Linked DNA regions of Homo sapiens. The protein of the gene in region 3 purifies or fractionates together with the protein of the main gene of each other region. This does not show direct contact. Each region holds a gene or a part of one and is shown on either strand. Other genes may lie near its edges. The genes, in order: TRMT11, UNC13B and WDR48.

Region 1 (3,652 bases), on a different chromosome or scaffold from region 3:
GGAAGTGACAAGATCATTTGTGTTTTAGAAAGATCATTCTGAAGTACGAGAGAAAAGATACCACTTAGAGAATACTGGACCAGAACTAGAGAGGCTCAGGAGTGTGACTGTGTAAAGTAAGGCAATGCAGTGACAATGGAGTGGTTAGACTGTGGTCTCCAGAATAACAACCTTAGTACTTGGTGATTTTTACTTGTTTTTTCCGTCGTAAATTCTTCTTAGTGTATTACACTTGTGCCAGTTTATTCTTCCAAAAACTCTGTTCTGTTTTACACCCTCATTTTTCTTAAGATGAAAATCTTTAGTCGGGCATTCAAAGTCCATCACTGCATGGTTCTTTCCTTTGTGCTTTCACTTCCCACCTAGTCCTTAGTGCTGCCAAAACTGACTCATTATTCCCTGAATTCCTGCTTTCACCTTTGCTCTCTGTGCTCCCTTTAGTCTGGTTTGGGTCTTTCCCATTCTTTATTGATTTTTACATAGGAAGTATTCATTTAGAGTTAATCACATGTTTATTTCTTTTAGCTTTATATGTTTTACATGATTATTTTTCAGATCCACAGTTCCCTTTCTGTAGTTTTTCCTCCTCTGCCAAAATTCTTATTTTTTTCTTGAATCCCCTTCAATGTAGAAAGCGTAGTTATGTTAAAGTATATGATAAAAGGGATCCTGTGGGTCTGTTTCTATTGTTTCTTTTTGTTCTGTTTCATATAGTGGGCTATTTTTAAAATATATGCCAGATGTTGTATTTGAAAATTTATTTGAAAAAATAATTTGAGGGCTGGGATGATGTACATCCTCTTCAAGAAGATAGGAACGCATAGGAGCATGAGGAATCTAGGTTGGGTTTAACTCATTTTCAGGTGTTAAGCCCTGTTTGTGTTCTGATTCCCAGGTACTCACAGAGTGTAGCTTTTTGACATCCTAGTGTAAATTAGGTGGTTCATCAAGTATCCTTTTCTCCTCTGGGGGGCCCTTTCTCTTTTTTTCCCTTTCTATCGGGCACTCAGAAGGGCTGTTCACTCTTGCAGCTGTTTTTGGATTTGTAAATGTCTCAGGGAAAAAGTGGCTCCACCTTGGAATTTTTGTCCTCTCCTGGATGTTGGTTTGGTAATTTTTGTTATCTTTCTATGCCTTCAATTAGATGGCCAGCTTTTCTAGTTCTTTTCAGCAAGAAGCTTAATCTGAATTACCTCTTTTGCCATACCTGGAAGTTGAATTCCTGTCATTGGGTTAGATTTTTTTCAGGGATTGAGGCAGTTTCCATGAAACTTTACTTCTCAAACTGAAGTAATCTTTTACTCTCTTGTACTCTAATACTTTTTTGCTTTTACCTGTTTAAGAACATGTACTGTTTTTTACACTTTACATTTCAGTTGTGAGGTGGTTTTGTTGGTTCTACTAGACCATAATTTCCCTAAGATAAATGTGTGTGTATTTTTACATAGATCAGGGACTTGCACATATTAGTTGCTTAAAAATTTTTTTGGGGGTCCGGGCGCAGTGGCTCACTCCTGTAATTCCAGTACTTTGGGAGGCTGAGGCGGGCGGATCACAAGGTCAGGAGTTCGAGACCAGTCTGGCCAACATAGTGAAACCCCATCTCTACTAAAAATACAAAAAATTAGCCAGATGTGGTGGTGTGCGCCTGTAATCTCAGCTACCCAAGAGGCTGAGGCAGGAGAATCGCATGAACCTGGGAGGTGGAGGTTGCAGTGAGCCGAGATCACACCATCGCACTCCAGCCCGGGTGACAGTGTGAGACTCCATCTCAAAAAAAAAAAAAAAATTTTTTTTGGAGACTGTTCTCTCTCTGTTTTCCAGGCTACAGTGCAGTGGCGTGACCGTGGCTCACTGCAGCCTCAAAGACCCAAGTTAAGCCATCCTCCCACCTTAGCTTCCTGAGTAGCTGGGACTACAGGTGCACCACTATGTCTGGCTAATTTTTTTATTTTTATTTTTGTGGAGCCGGGTGTTAATCAGAGGCTGAGTGTTGGTGTGAGGGGGCGGGAGGGGGTCTTGGGAGCTCTCACTGTGTTGCCAGGGTTGGTCTCAGACTCCCGGTCTCAAGTTATCTCTTTGCCTCGGCCTCCCAAAGTGCTGGGATTGCAGGTGGAGCCGCCATACCTGGCTGCTTAAAATATTAAAATCAGTGATATAGAATCTCTTCTGGGAAAGGCAATGCAAAGGACAGTCTATCCTTTTGGGCCCAGCTACTGCATTAGAACTGATAAGCAAGGAAGCTATAATGAATGGCTGCCTTTATGAATTAAAATGAGAGATCAGGAATATAAGTGTGGTCCAGTTTTACCTCTGATAGAGTTAATCAGGGCTAAGTATAGTTGGCAGCTACTTAATGTAGTACTTATTGTACTAAATAGTGTTTACTAAAGTTCAAACTCCTGGGTTTTATTGCTTGTCCTGAAGCAACCTTTTAAATGGATGAAAAAGCAAGTAGCTGAAATAATAGAAAAGCTCATGGAATTAACGCATCACACATGCCCCAGATCATGCTACATTTTTATATCCAATGTTCAATATAAATTATTTTTTATTCCTAATATAGAAAGAGTCTCAACTGGAAAGTTGAATTTGCCATAAGATTAATGAACATTTTGTGTTTTGCTTTTTCCAAGTAGATTGATGAAGTGGTTTAAACATGTTTTGCTTTTCAATTTGAAACTTGGGTTATCATATTTATTCTCAGTTTTAGGTGGCTGCTTAAGCTTTGGGTAGTAGAGATAATGCTATGCCATAAAACTTTAATCTTTCACTTTTTTTCCCCACCTAACTCTTAGGATCTTTGTGTTTTAGCTTGTTGCAGCTTTTTAACAGTATATTCCAGGAGCAGCAAACTTTGGTGTTTTAACTTGGTTATAGTTGGATGTTTTAAATGTAAAACTGACTTTACAATATGCTTTAATATAGAACAAACAACAATCATGCAAGATGAAGTAATTTAATCTATAACTTTATTTTTTTTCTTTTAAGTGCTATAACTCTATCAGTCTTGGTTGACTTCTTGAGCCACTGGACTTCTAGGACAGTTATCAGGGTCCTCATCATTTTGATTCCCTTAATAACCACCTAGGTTCTATGCTTCTCTCTTTATAGTTCACCTAACCTGATGAGGTAGCTATGATTCCTGTTTCACATTTGAGGGAACTAAAAGTTGGAGGATTTAAGATTCTTGTATAAAGCCACATCGCTAGTATTTGGAAGAGCTGAAAATCAGATTATGGTCTATTTAATTTCTAAGTCTCATGATGTCTCCTATTCAGATTTGTGTTTTCCTTGCTGCAAAATAACCTTTGGGCTGCCTTCACTGATTTATCAGTAGTCTGTGATAGTTCTTGGTCGATCCATCTGATTGGACTGAATTCAGCCCCTTCTAACACTGAATTTTAAAAAATGATTTGTTGCATAGACAAAATAGAAATGGCACTAGTAGCTTGAACTTCTCATTCTTCTTGGTCTTGGAGTGGGGGACTTCCTGGTCTGGGTATAGTTTCCCTTTTGATGGCGGTGGGCTTGGTGTTAAAGGCTCTTCCTTCTGGTTGGGAGGAAAGGGGATAGTAGGTAGCCAGCAGTGGAACACTTACCTCTCATTAGGTTCCATCCTCCATGAGACCTATATGGAAGAGTGTGATTC
Region 2 (3,652 bases), on a different chromosome or scaffold from region 3:
CATAGCTTGCTTTTTATCCTTCTTGTGTCTTTCCTAGTACCCGAGCTTCATGTTAATTAGGGGTTAAATAACAAGAACTCAGTGTGTGGGTATTTTCATCCTCCCCTTCTCTCTCTGCCAAATGTAATTCATTTACTGGAACAAGGAGCTTCCTGCTTAAAGCAAAAGCTGGGCCCCCGATATTTACTCACTCTGGTTTGCTCTGCCTTGTATAATGTGAAATGGAGAAAGGAGGGCAGGAAGAGGTAGTAAGTAGTTGGTGGTATATATTAACTACAACTACATGATAGGCTAGGATGCTTCCTTGGGCCTTAGGCACTTATATCTTGTAGGAGATGGGGATAGATCTATTTTGCTTTGTTTTTTCAAGTCTTCTAAGATGCTTTCTCCAGTGGCAATGAGTGTATTAAGCAAAATACAAAGTGCAAAGGATGCCTTGGGATAGTCTGTATTCCCATATCCTATTCCATACAGATTTGCATAGTTTCTTCCATGGTATCATCTCTGCCTTTTACTACCCTCAAGGCTGATGTCTGATAAATGCTTTGAGTAAAATCTCACAGGAACTCAGAGCTGTCCTTTGCTGTAGTTCTTCAGTCTCGAGCAGTGTACAGGATCTATCTGCAGAGGGTACTGTTATTTCCCCTAAGAAGCAGTACCATACAGTACAGATTAAGAATGCTACCTTGACCTCTGGCCCAAACTTGTTCAAAGGGGTTGGTCAGGGTCAGTGTGTGTGTGTGTGTGTGTGTGTGTGTGTGTGTGTGTGTGTATACTTATGTACAAGTATATGTGTTTGTGTGTTGAACTACTCAGAACAGTGACCTGGTACCTATTCTGCTGGCATGGGCTAGAGGATCAGAAATCAGCCTGAAAATACCAGGTAATTAGGAGGAACTTTAGGGAAAATCCCATTGGAAAATAACAGTGATTTCTCTTCTTTGACCAAGGGTAAACACAAGCCCTTTAGTTAAAGGCTTGACTCTGTGGTAAGAAAATTCTTCAAAAGAACTGAAGCCCTTAGATGACAGGGCCATAAAACTCAAGGAAGTAACTTCTAGATACTGCTCTTCTTTCCACCACTCTGCCCTTCTTGCCACTGTCACATTCTCTGCTATAACTGCTTTCTCTCATGACTTTCTGGATATGGGAATACAGGTGATTGAGAAAAGATTGGCTTGCTGGTCTTCAGATATAGAGATGCATGAATACGGCTCTGACCCAGATCCTGGAGTTGGACTTTGTCCACTCTTTCCAAAACTGAGCCTTGCCCTGAAAGAAGCTCAGTTACAGATGTTCATCTTTGGGACGCTTCCTATGCTGCCAGGGATATCATTGTAGCATTTATGTTGATGAGACCATTCGTTTGTGTATTCTCTTGGTCCTGGCCTCTATCTTCCAATGGGTTCTATTAACTCATCTTGCAGATGAGGAAACTGAGATGATAACTGAAAGAACATGTCTGCTCTCCTTTGCTCATCCTAAGGTACAGGCGTACACATTTACAATTGTAGAGGAAGAAATGATGACCTCAATGTAATAAGTAATAGAAAAAGAGTGGAGTTCATTCATTCCATTTTACTGTGTGGAAATTAAAGAAAGATTAATCACAGCCACTGGACAAGCTTCTTTAGAAGACTGAATAAAGAATTTTAGGAATAAGTAACAGGCCATTTTAATAATTTTTAATCCTACTCACAAATAGCCTATTAAGATAAAATATACTTCAAAGTCAAGTGCAGAACTGAGGTTAAGTGTCGTTGGAGAACCCAGCATGTTGTGTTGTTTTCCTGTTGTGTTTTCGCTGAATAGAGACTAATTCTTCTAGATTATGAAGTTTGGTCCTCTCTTCCCAGGAACCTCCTATTTGATTCTTGCTACTAATGTAGTCATTATTTCCTGGATGTCTCCTTTCTTTTGTCCTGGTCCCTGATTGCATTTATTTACTTATCTGTCTTTCTGTCATTCTCACAGCCCCACCAGCAGCAGTAGGTATGGCTCCTCCTGTAATGTGAGTCAAGGAAGCTCTCAGCTAAGTGAACTAGACCAGTATCACGAACAAGATGACGACCATCGGGAGACGGACTCGATTCATTCTTGCCACAGCTCTCACAGCCTGTCCAGAGATGGCCAAGCAGGTTTTGGAGAACAAGAGAAACCCTTGGAGGTGACAGGTCAAGCAGAGAAGGAGGCAGCATGTGAACCCAAGGAGATGAAAGAAGATGCCACAACCCACCCTCCCCCAGATCTGGTGCTGCAAAAAGACCACTTCCTAGGTCCCCAGGAGAGGTAGGCAACAGCTGCCTTGAGGAGCTCACATGGCTTCCTCAGTACCTGCCCTGTGGTATTGCTGAAAATAAGTGATTGTCATTTGTTTCCCTGCAGCTGGGTATGGTGGTAGTTAACACCTCCAGGCTCAACTCTGTATTGCTTCCTTTGATTTATGGTGCACTTTCCAAGACATTTTGGAGATCTCTGAAGAATATTTGGGTTTTTGTTTGTTTGCTTTTGAGATAGGGTCTCACTCTGTTGTCCAGGCTGGCACGATCTTGGCTCACTGCAGCCTCAACAGCCTGGTCTCAAGCAATTCTCCCACCTCAGCTTCCTGAGTAGCTGGGACTACTAGGTGTGCACCACCACACCTGGCTAATTGTATGTTTATAGAGACAAGGTTTCACCATGTTGCCCAGGCTGGTCTTGAACTCCTGAGCTCAAGCAATCCACCTGCCTCAGACTCCCAAAGTGCTGGGATTACAGCGGTGTGCCACTGCACCCAGCCAGCACTTGGGTTCTTTGTAGTTAGTGAGCTGCAGTGTACCAGGGCTTCTTGAGTCTGCAGTTCATAGCTTACTAGTTGACCTTGTATATGGCAGCCTCTGAGTCAGGAACTGACTTGAGCCAGGTTATTTCATCCACTGGGGCTGTGGTAGGTACTTTGGCTGACTTCCTAACCTATTAAGAATGCTACTTTGACCTCTGGCCCAAACTTGTTCAAAGGGGTTGGTCAGGGTCAGTGTGTGTGCATGTACTTATGTACAGGTATATGTGTATGTGTGTTGAAGTACTCAGAACAGTGACCTGGTACCTATTCTGCTGGTATGGGCTAGAGGATCAGAAATCAGCCTGAAAATACCAGGCAATTAGGAGGAACTTAGGGAAAATCCCATTGGAAAATAACAGTGATTTCTGTTGTAACTTTTTTGGTGAACATTTTGTTTTGTTTTTCCCTGGCTGAGAAACCCAGGACAGAGTTAAGAAAGAATTGATCTAGAAGTCAGATTTAACCCACCCCTCAGCCTCCTCAGGGCCTAGCAATGTGTCTGCCAATTGGTATCCATAGGAAGAAAAATTTAAAATGTATCCTCTTTAACATCTCATAATGAAGCTGAGTACAGAGTCTGAATGTTATTACTGAGCTAAATCGGTTAGACTAGCTGATAGGTTGGAGCAGAGCCAGAGTTCTCAGTCTCGGCACTCGTGACATTTTGGGCCAGATTATTCTTTGTTGTGTATATTATAGGATGTTTAATAGCATCACTGGCCTCTACACACTAGATGCCAGTAGCAATCCTTGCAACCCTCAGTTGTGACAATTAAAACTGTCTCCTGACAGATTTCCCCTGGCGGGGACAGTTGCCCACTGGGGTAGAGT
Region 3 (3,652 bases):
ATGTTGGGAAAAGAGGAAGCCACAATAGTATATGATTTTAAAAAGTTGCGGGGGAGTAAGAAAATGAAGAGCCAGTGGCAGCTCCAGAACTAATTGAGTGTTTCAAGAAGAAGCTTGCGGTTAGTGGCATTAACCTGCTGTGAGTTGATTTAAGATGTGACTAACATCATGGATTTAAATAAAGAGGGTGGCCTCTGGGTAGAGTCTTAAGGGCAAAAGCCAGGTAGAGTGAGTTGAGTAGTGATTTGAAGGTGAAGAAACAGAAAATTTGACTGGATAATCTTTGAAGAAATTTGATTGGAGGGGTAGGCAGGAAGCGGCGGAAACTAGAGAAGATGTAGGAGTCAGAGGGCCAAAGGAAGCTTTTGATTTTGTTTGGTTTTGTTTGGATATTTGGGTATTTTTCAGATGTAAGAAATTTGAGCATATTTCATTGCTCCTGGGAAGAAGCCAGTAGAGACATTCATGGGTAGATGACAATACAAGGTCATCCCAAGAAGCAAGAGGTGAGGGGGACCGGAGCACAGTCAGAAGGGACACCGTTTTCCTTGCACCAGGGAGAATGATAGAGAAAGTTAAGGGGATTCTGTCAAGGCTTCTCTTTGTTTTGAGAAAAAGGAATCAGAGTCATGTGCTGAGGATAATGGGGAAGGTGGCAAGGTCAGAGGTAGAAGAGAGATTTAGTTGAGATGGACTGCAAGACAGTGACCCCAGGGCTCAAGTCTCCAGTAAATGAGGGAGAGTGGCAGGTTGCTAGATGGCAGTGAAGGAAAGGTGTACCGTTTACTGTTGCTAAATGACATAGGCCTCAGAGAAATAAGTTTTTACATGGGAGATGGTAGAGTAATGGTCTCCATGGAGCATCAAGGAACAATGGGATGTGGGAAAATAAGCAGTCCCCCTTTGAGAAGATGGCCGACAACTGGGACCCTCGAAAGAGCCACGTTGCTGTTAAGATGAGGTGGTATATTATATCAATATCAGCACAATTAAATACAGTTTCTTCCCAAATACTATTTTGTGCTTTTTTAATTTAAATTTTTTATAGCAGCAGATTGTTATTTTAAAAAAGGACCACATTCTTTTTGAAATGTATTTTAGACTGTTTCACTTAGACACATGTGAAAATATGTAAAATTTTGAATAGCAAAGTCAGAATCAAGTGAATTCACCACTTAATATTGATCATTATACTTTCTTTTGATGTATAGGCATGTAAAGTTGAAGATCTGGGCAAAGTGGATTTTGAAGATGAAATTAAGAAAAGATTTAAAATGGTGTATGTGCCAAATTGGTTCTCAGTAGACTTAAAAACAGGGGTAAGTTAGCAATTGATACTTGTATGATTTGGGATAATTGAAGATTTTCATTATAGCTTATAATTATTATTAGTTACAGAGTCCTGTGTTTTTAGGTGTGAAAAAAAAAATTTGTGTTAAAACTTAAAATGCAAAATGGAATAAAAAAGAAAAAAACAAAATTAAAAATATATTAAAAAAGAAAAAAATTTAAAAGTTACAAAATGCCTTTGGTATCCCAGGAAACTAAATTGTGTTGTTGCATTGAATCACACAAAACACATTTTGGTTCCTGAATTTATGACTTAGCACTTTAGTCAAATAGTACAAATAAATGAAGGTTTAGAGACTTGTTTGGAGAATATATTCAAATGGGATGCCACTAAGTTTTTTCTTTTGATAGATGTTAACTATTACTTTGGATGAAAGTGATTGTTTTGCTGCCTGGGTTTCTGCAAAAGATGCTGGTTTCAGCAGCCCTGATGGGTCAGATCCAAAATGTGAGTTTAAGTGTCCTTCATTTTTTTCCTCCCTTCTAAAGAGAAGATGAATATGAGCTGTTTTTTGCTAAGTACTTATCTTTGTAAAAGTTCTCTATATTTTGTTGACTATGTCCTAAAAATGTGGTATGTACAAATACCTAATGTATACAAATCATTTTAGTAATTTCATATGGAAATAGCCGTTTAAAGAATCTGATTCTCGGCCAGGCGCAGTGGCTCACACCTGTAATCTCAGCACTTTGGGAGGCCGAGGCGGGTGGATCACGAGGTCAGGGGATCGAGACCATCCTGGCTAACACGGTGAAACCCCGTCTCTACTAAAAATACAAAAAATTAGCCGGGCGTGGTGGCGGGTGCCTGTAGTCCCAGCTATTCGGGAGGCTGAGGCAGGAGAATGGCGTGAACCCGGGAGGCGGAGCTTGCAGTGAGCCGAGATTGCACCACTGCGCTCCAGCCTGGGTGACAGAGCGAGACTCTATCTCAAAAAAAAAAAAAATCTGATTCTCATGTTTGTTTTTAAATAATAGCTGTATCTGAACAACCAAGTAGAATATGTCTTTGCTCCATAGCATCATTGCTTTAAACATTCTAAGATAAAATTTTAGCAGAATTGGCAAAATGACTAAAGTCTTTATTTTAGACATCATTCGCATTGGGTTAAGAATGTAACATCAGAATATGTACAAACTTACAATTTTTATTCTATTTTTAGGTTAAAGCCAAGTAACTCGCTTTTCCATTTTATCTCTTTTTAATTAACTTTTTTGCAGTGAATTTAGGAGGACTTTTACTCCAAGCACTCCTGGAATATTGGCCTAGAACACATGTGAATCCAATGGATGAAGAGGAAAATGAAGTAAACCATGGTTAGTTTTTATATTCAGATAGTTGCATAAAAAGTTAGAGGTACTTACTTAAAAGGTACTTACTAAAAGGTACTTACTTAAACCGTTAGCTAAAATATTTGTGGTGTACTCAGTTTATTGTCCTCTCTTCCATATCTCAAAGTAGGAACATCCATCCAGTCTTAACTGAGACTGAGATTCCAAAAGAGCAGACCACCTTATGATATGGCTTTTAGTGAGACTGCTCAAGATAAATAAAATACTCTATATTCAGATGACTTTTGTCTTAAAATGAGGCACCTTAACAGACTTATTTCCAAAATATTCTTCAAGGTACCTCTGATCTTTTGGATTAACCTCCAAAGCTAGGTAGTTAGCTGCATCAGAAAGCCAGGTTTGTCATTGCATAGTCACTCTTCATGTTGGGCTGAAATGTTGGTATTTCCTAGTCTCATGGCCTACCTGATTTTGACTCTGTTTCAAAAAAAAATTCAAATTCCAACTCAGAAGTGACAGGGCATATGCTCAAGCATGTGTAAAGAATTAATGTCACTGAGGACATCTGAAACGTGTGTGTGCCATAGGCAGTGGCAGTAACGTTCCCTGAGCAGCAGAGGAGAACATGTTTTGAATATATGCATTTGGCTCAGTTTGATCAAAGGAAGGGGAAACAAGAACTTAGAATTTCACATCCTCATGTGTAACCTACAGCTGGTTGAGGAATCATTGAGTCCCATCGACTGAGGCTTACTCTGCTGAAGATTCTCTGCTGGCCACCAGGAGTGAGCAACAATGGCGAGTACCTCCTGCCAGGGACTTTGTTCTGGCTGTCAGATTCACCCATAATGATATGTGGAATTTAAATCTCTCACATGAGGATGACATGCTTCCTTGAAAACCAGTCTTCTGATGTTCCTGTCAGAGAGAGGGTGCTGTTGCCCCACCCATGGTGGCTTTTCTTTTACATCACCTGACACACTTTGATCCCTGTCAGAATTGTACAGTG

What was found.
Region 1: the proteins of WDR48 (region 3) and TRMT11 purify together in Homo sapiens (affinity purification with mass spectrometry; one large-scale study listed by BioGRID and IntAct). This does not show direct contact.
Region 2: the proteins of WDR48 (region 3) and UNC13B purify together in Homo sapiens (affinity purification with mass spectrometry, with the first as the bait; one large-scale study listed by BioGRID). This does not show direct contact.

The regions. Positions count from the first base shown.
Region 1 is NC_000006.12:125,989,473-125,993,124, forward strand, and holds part of TRMT11 (tRNA (guanine(10)-N(2))-methyltransferase TRMT11), read left to right. Parts: intron 1-3,652. UniProt on the Homo sapiens protein: Catalytic subunit of the TRMT11-TRM112 methyltransferase complex, that specifically mediates the S-adenosyl-L-methionine-dependent N(2)-methylation of guanosine nucleotide at position 10 (m2G10) in tRNAs.
Region 2 is NC_000009.12:35,308,493-35,312,144, forward strand, and holds part of UNC13B (protein unc-13 homolog B), read left to right. Parts: intron 1-1,974; coding exon 1,975-2,289; intron 2,290-3,652. UniProt on the Homo sapiens protein: Plays a role in vesicle maturation during exocytosis as a target of the diacylglycerol second messenger pathway.
Region 3 is NC_000003.12:39,082,944-39,086,595, forward strand, and holds part of WDR48 (WD repeat-containing protein 48), read left to right. Parts: intron 1-1,211; coding exon 1,212-1,319; intron 1,320-1,701; coding exon 1,702-1,798; intron 1,799-2,571; coding exon 2,572-2,667; intron 2,668-3,357; exon of another isoform or gene 3,358-3,441; intron 3,442-3,652. UniProt on the Homo sapiens protein: Regulator of deubiquitinating complexes, which acts as a strong activator of USP1, USP12 and USP46. Enhances the USP1-mediated deubiquitination of FANCD2; USP1 being almost inactive by itself.